Linked DNA regions of Homo sapiens: region 1 is linked to region 2. The links come from fine-mapping of genetic effects on gene expression. A gene starts in region 2. The other region holds a variant in brackets. All regions are shown on one strand. Distances are between the middles of the regions. Region 1 has its middle 11 kb from the start of NMRK2. Region 2 holds the start of DAPK3 (death associated protein kinase 3).

Region 1 (2,907 bases), 27 kb before region 2:
GAGGCAGGAGAATCGCTTGAACCCGGGAGGCAGAGGTTGCAGGGAGCCGAGATCGCACTACTGCACTCCAGCCTGGGTGACAGAGCAAGATCCGTCTCAAAAAAAAAAAAAATTAAAAATTAGCTGGGCATGGTGGTATACCTGTGTAGCCTCAGCTACACAGGAGGCTGAGACAGGAGGATTGCTTGAGCCCAAGAGGTTGAGGCTGCAGTGAGCTATGATCAGGCCACTGCACTCCAGCCTGGGTGACAATGCGATAACCTGTCTCAAAAAAATTTTTTTTCTCAATGCCTATAAATAAAGTTTTATTGGCACCCGGCCCCTGCCATTTGTACGTGTCAGCCCTGTGGCTGCTTTAGTACTACAATAGCATGTTGAGTCACCCTGACAGAGAAGGTCTGTCTGCAAAGCCAAAAATATTTACTATTTGCCCCTCTGTGCAAAATGTGTGCTGAACGGTGTGGTGTATGCCAGGTCGAGTCCAGGGCCACAGGGAGGGTCTGAGGTCTCCGTGCTGGAGGGGAAGCAGGAGTGGATATGGAATGGGAGGATGACGTGGAAGAGGTGGCTTGCCAAGGCTTCTCCTTCCCCATAAGCACAGAGTGTGGTAAGGATGATCTGCCGGTCACTGTGCCCAAAATAGTCCAGGACAGGACAGAGACATGAGGGAGGTGGTTCCAGGACAGCAGAAGCCCTGCCTGGCAGCCCAGATACCTTGGGCATTATTGTTCTTTTAAAAAAAAAAGAAAGGTTCATGCCTGTAATCCCAGCACTTTGGGAGGTTGAGGGGGGAGGATCACTTAAGCCCCGGAGTTCCAGTCCAGCCTGGGCAAGATAGTGAGACCCCCATCTCTACAAAAAATGATAAAATATTAGCAAGGCGTGGTAGCCCATGCCTGTAATCCCAGCACTTTGGGAGGCCAAGGAGGTGAATTGCTTGAGCCCAGGAGTTTGAAACCAGCCTGGGCAACAGAGTGAGACCCCGTTTCTGTTTTTATTTTTCTGTATTTATTTTTACTTAGTTATTTATTTTTGAGATGGAGTCTCGGTCTGTCGCCCAGGCTGGAGTGCAGTGGCGTGATCTCGGCTCACGGCAATCTCCACCTCCCAGGTTCAAGCAATTCTCCTGCCTCAGCCTCCCAAGTAGCTGGGATCACAGGCATGCACCACCACGCCCAGCTAATTTTTGTATGTTTAGTAAAGACGGGGTTTCGCCATGTTGGCCAGGCTGGTCTCGAACTCCTGACTTCAGGTGATCCACCCGCCTAGGCCCCCCAAAATGCTGGGATTACAGACGTGAAACACCATGCCCGGCTGTGAGACCCCGTTTCTACAAAAAATTAGCCAGGCATGATGACACATGTCTGTAGTCTCAGCTACTCGGGAGGCTGAGGTGGGAGGATCCCTTGAGCCCAGAAAGTTGAGGCTGCAATGAGTTATGATTGCATGACTACACTCCAGGCTGGGCGACAGAGCAAGACCCTATCTCAAAAAAAAAAAAAAAAAAAAACAAAACAAGAAGGGGAACAGTAGCCACAGGGTAACCAACCAAAAAACGGAAGATGATAAGGGTTGG[C/A]CAGGATGTGGAGAGAGCAAAACCCTTATGCTCTGAGGTGGGAAATGGAACACAGTGAGCCTGACGAGAAACAGTCTGGCCGTTTCTCAGAATTAAACATGGAATTACCATAGGGCCTAGCAATCCTGCTCCTGGGCAAGGCCCCAAGGAATTCACAGCAGGGACTCAAAGAGATCCTTGCACAGCCATGTTCATGGGGGCACAGCCCACAACAGCCAAAAGGTAGAGGCAACCCAAGTGTCCACAGACAGATGAATGAATGAACACAATGTACTCCATCCGTACATGAATATTACTGAGCCATGAAAAGGAAGGGAATCTGGACACAGGGCACAACAGGATGATCCTTGAAGATGTCACGCTCCGTGAAATAAGCCAAGGCCGGGCATGGTGGCTCACCCTTGTAATCCCAACACTTTGGGAAGCGGAGAGGGGTGGATCACCTGTGGTCAGGAGTTCAAGACCAGCCTGGTCAACATGGCAAAACCCCGTCTCTACTAAAAATACAAAAATTAGCTGGGCATGGCGGTGGCGTGCCTGTAGTCCCAGCTACTTGAGAGGCTGAGGCAGGAGAATCACTTGAACCCAGGAAGTAAAGGTTGCAGTGAGCCAAGATTGCGCCATTGCACTCCAGCCTGGGCAACAGAACAAGACTCCATCTCAAAAAAAAAAAAAAAAAAAGGGAAGGAAGGGAGGGAGGGAGGGAGGGAGGAAGCTGGGCGTAGTCGCTCACACCTGTGAATCCCAGCACTTTGGGAGGCTGAGACTGGAGGAGCCAAGGAGTTTGAGATCAGCCTGGACAATATAGCAAGACCCTGTCTCTACTTTTAAAAAAAATACTGGGGGGCTAGAGCAGTGGCTCACGCCTATAATCCCAGCACTTTGAGAAGCCAAGGCAGGAGGATCGCTTGAGCCCAGGAGTCTGAGACCAGACTAGGCAACATAGTGAGACCCTGTTTCTTTTTTTAATTTAAAATGTTATTCTTGGCCGGGCACAGTGGCTCATGCCTGTAATCTCAGCACTTTGGGAGACCAAGGCACCCAGATCACTTGAGGTTAGGAGTTCGAGACCAACCTGGCCAACATGGTGAAACCCCGTCTCTGCTAAAAATACAAAAATTAGCTGGGTGTGGTGGTGCACACCTGTAATCCCAGCTATTTGGGAGGCTGAGACAGGAGAATCACTTGAACCCAGGAGGCGGAGATTGCAGTGAGCCAAGATTGCACCACTGCTCTCCAGCTGGGGTGACAGAGGGAGATTCCATCTCAAAAAAATAAATTTAAATTTAAAAAGTAAAATAAAATATTTTTAATTAAAACAACTTTTTTGG
Region 2 (2,907 bases):
TCCCCTAATGGCAACCCTGGAGAAGACAGGGAAAGACAGAAGTGAGGAACTGAGACACCACCCTTTTCTCCTAGATTAATGGACAGACCTGTCCAGCAAACACAAGCCTCCCACCTCTCCACTCTGAAGCTCCAAACTCGACAAAAAGAGGTGCTGTGTTTACTGGGCTGGGTCCTGTCATGTCACCTCTTAGAGCCCCATAACCACTCAAAAGTTTGGTAACAGCCCCACTGGGCCACCTTCACCCCGCAAAACTCTCTCCAGACACATAATTCTGATTTCCCCGACGCTGCCTGCGTCTTTTTTTGCCTCTCACTCCTAGACTTCTCTCAACCTGCTCAGCCAAAATCCCCCACCATTCCTGCACGTTCTCCTCAACCTCAAATCCCAGGGCTACCTTACTCCCTGGCCAATGTCTTAACGAAGTTCTCAAGTCTACTTCTTTTGTTGTTGGTGTTGTTGTTTTTTGAGAAGGAGTCTCGCTCTGTCGCCCTGGCTGGAGTGCAGTGGTGCAATCATGGCTCACTGCAGCCTGGAACTCCAAGGCTCAAGCGATCGTCCCAGGCCTCCCAAAGTGCTGCCATTCCGATCAAAATTCCCAAGTTACTACCTTAACCCCTCCTGGTCCTTGCCCTCGGCAGGTCTCTTAAGACCCTCATCGATGGAACACCCCCGCCCACCCCCAACCATCTCTGACTCCCTCCAATTCTGAATTTTCCAAGAACCGGACGACGCCTTCCACGCTCCTGAAAGCCCACTTTGCCTCCCTCCCCCGCTGACCTCCACTGTCCTCGCAAGATTAACCTCTTCCTCCACGCTCCATGTATCAAAGTCCCCCAACCGCCGTCTCCCCTACCCCCCAAAACGGGCCGCCAAAAAGGGCCCCATCTGAGTCTCCTCCACCGTCCTCTGCCCCTTCTCGCCCGCAATCTCCGCACAAGCCCCTAGGCAGACCCCAGTGGCTCCCTTTGCAGAACCTCCCCCCGCCCCCAAGGCCTTGCCCATCCCTAAGGCTCCGCTCCAGCATCCCTGGGGCCGCTACGCCCCTCGCACGCCCGGCCGAGCCCTTTCCCCGGCCCGGTCACCCAGATGGGTCCCCAAACCTACCAGCTCCTCAGATTCTCTCCCTCCCTCGTCCTCCGCGGGCCCCCGAAGCGCCGCTCTGGCCCCACCCAGCCCTCCAGCCTCGGCCCGAGCCCGCTCTTTACCCTCCGCAGCCCGGAGAATACGGCCGGCGCCGCCGCGCTGGCCACCGCCGCCGCCTCCAGAAGCCCCGCGCCCCTGCCGCCGCGACGCGCCTGCGCCGACGTCACCGCACCCGCCAGTGCCCACCCCCGGGAAACGAACCCCGCCGCCTATTGGCCGGTGCGCCCGCCGCTCGTGCCGCACCTCGACGTCCCGCCCCCAGCTGCCTTTTCGGCACCCACACCCGGATGCAGCCTCACCACTGGCTGAACACTCGCCATCCCTGATTTCATTGGCTGCAGTCGACGCTGGTCAAGCGGACGGAAAAAAGGCCGACTTCCGGTCCCTTCATCGCCCCGCCCGCCTCTCCTCTGACCCAGGTGCTGAAGCTGCGAGAAGTGAGGCTGAAGCCCTGCATCCCGCTTCCTGCCTTCCTGGAGCACCGGTTGGGCGAATGGATGGCTCACCTGTGGCCGAGCGCGCCTGGCAGCTCCTGGAGTGGACCCTGGGACTGCTTTAGTCCCTATGTGGCAGTTTCCTCCACTGAAAACTGTTACCCACATTCTAAATACTTAAAATGCAAATGAGGTCAATCTGGGGTTGTCATACACAGGGTCCCTCTTCGTCTCAAAATAGAGGGTAACAGCAAGCATTTTATTGAGACATAGTATGTGCCAACTGACAACACTGGGAGGTATCAGGTTTGTTTTTTTTTTAATTTTATTTTTTGAGACAGGGTCTCACTCTGTCACCCAGGCAGGAGTGCAGCGGCGGTATCCAGCTCACTGCAACCTCCACCTCCCGGGTTCAAACGATTCTCGTGCCTCAGCCTCCCAAGTAGCTGGGATTACAGGTGCCCATCACCACGCCCGGCTAATTTTTGTATTTTTAGTAGAGACGGGGTTTCACCATGTTGCCCAGGCTGGTCTCGAACTCCTAAGCTCAGGTGATCCGGCACCTCAGCTTTCCAAAGTGCTGAGATTACAGGCGTGAGCCATTGCGCCCGGCCTAAATTCATTTTTTATTATTATTTTGAGACGGAGTCTCGCTCTGTCACCCAGGCTGGAGTACACTGGCACAATCTCGGCTCACTGCAAGCTCCACCTCCCAGGTTCACGCCATTCTCCTGCCTCAGCCTCCCGAATAGCTGGGACTACAGGCGCCCGTCACCACGCCCAGCTAATTTTTTGTATTTATTAGTAGAGACAGGGTTTCACCGTGTTAGCCAGGATGGTCTCGATCTCCTGACCTCCTGATCCGCCCGCCTCGGCCTCCCAAAGTGCAGGAATTACAGGCATGAGCCACCTTGCCCAGCCTTTTTTTTTTTTTTTTTTTTTTTTTGAGACAGTCTCCTTCTATCGTCCAGGCTGGAACGCAGTGGTGAGATCTGGGCTCACTGCAATCTCTGCCTCCTGGGTTCAAGCGATTCTCCTGCCTCAGCCTCCCGAGTAGCTGGGACTACAGGTGCACGCCACCACTCCCAGCTGATTTTTGTATTTTTAGTAGACGCAGGGTTTCACCATGTTGGCCAGGATGGTCTCAATATCTGTGATCCGCCGGCCTCGGCCTCTCAAAGTGCTGCGATTACAGACGTGAGCCACAAGCCGGCCTTTATATTTTTTATTTACATTTTCAACGTACAATGGGTTGGCCAGGTGTGGTGGCTCACGCCCGTAATCCCAACAGCTTGGGCAGCCAAGGCGGGCAGGTCACTTGAAGTAG

What was found. PIP is the estimated chance that this variant, and not a neighbour inherited with it, causes the effect.
Region 1: its variant is fine-mapped to the expression of DAPK3 in whole blood (INTERVAL, PIP 0.94).

Annotation. Positions count from the first base shown.
Region 1 is chr19:3,942,637-3,945,543 of GRCh38, forward strand. No RefSeq gene overlaps it. Among named protein-coding and RNA genes, the nearest start is that of NMRK2, 11 kb to the left of the region's middle. The variant C/A (reference allele first, on the strand shown) is at 1,577.
Region 2 is chr19:3,969,814-3,972,720 of GRCh38, forward strand. DAPK3 (death associated protein kinase 3) reads right to left here and starts at 1,286. Exons shown (of 9, transcript NM_001348.3): 1 at 1,108-1,286; 2 at 1-16. RefSeq lists enhancers at 1-337, 338-969 and silencers at 1-152, 1,141-1,270.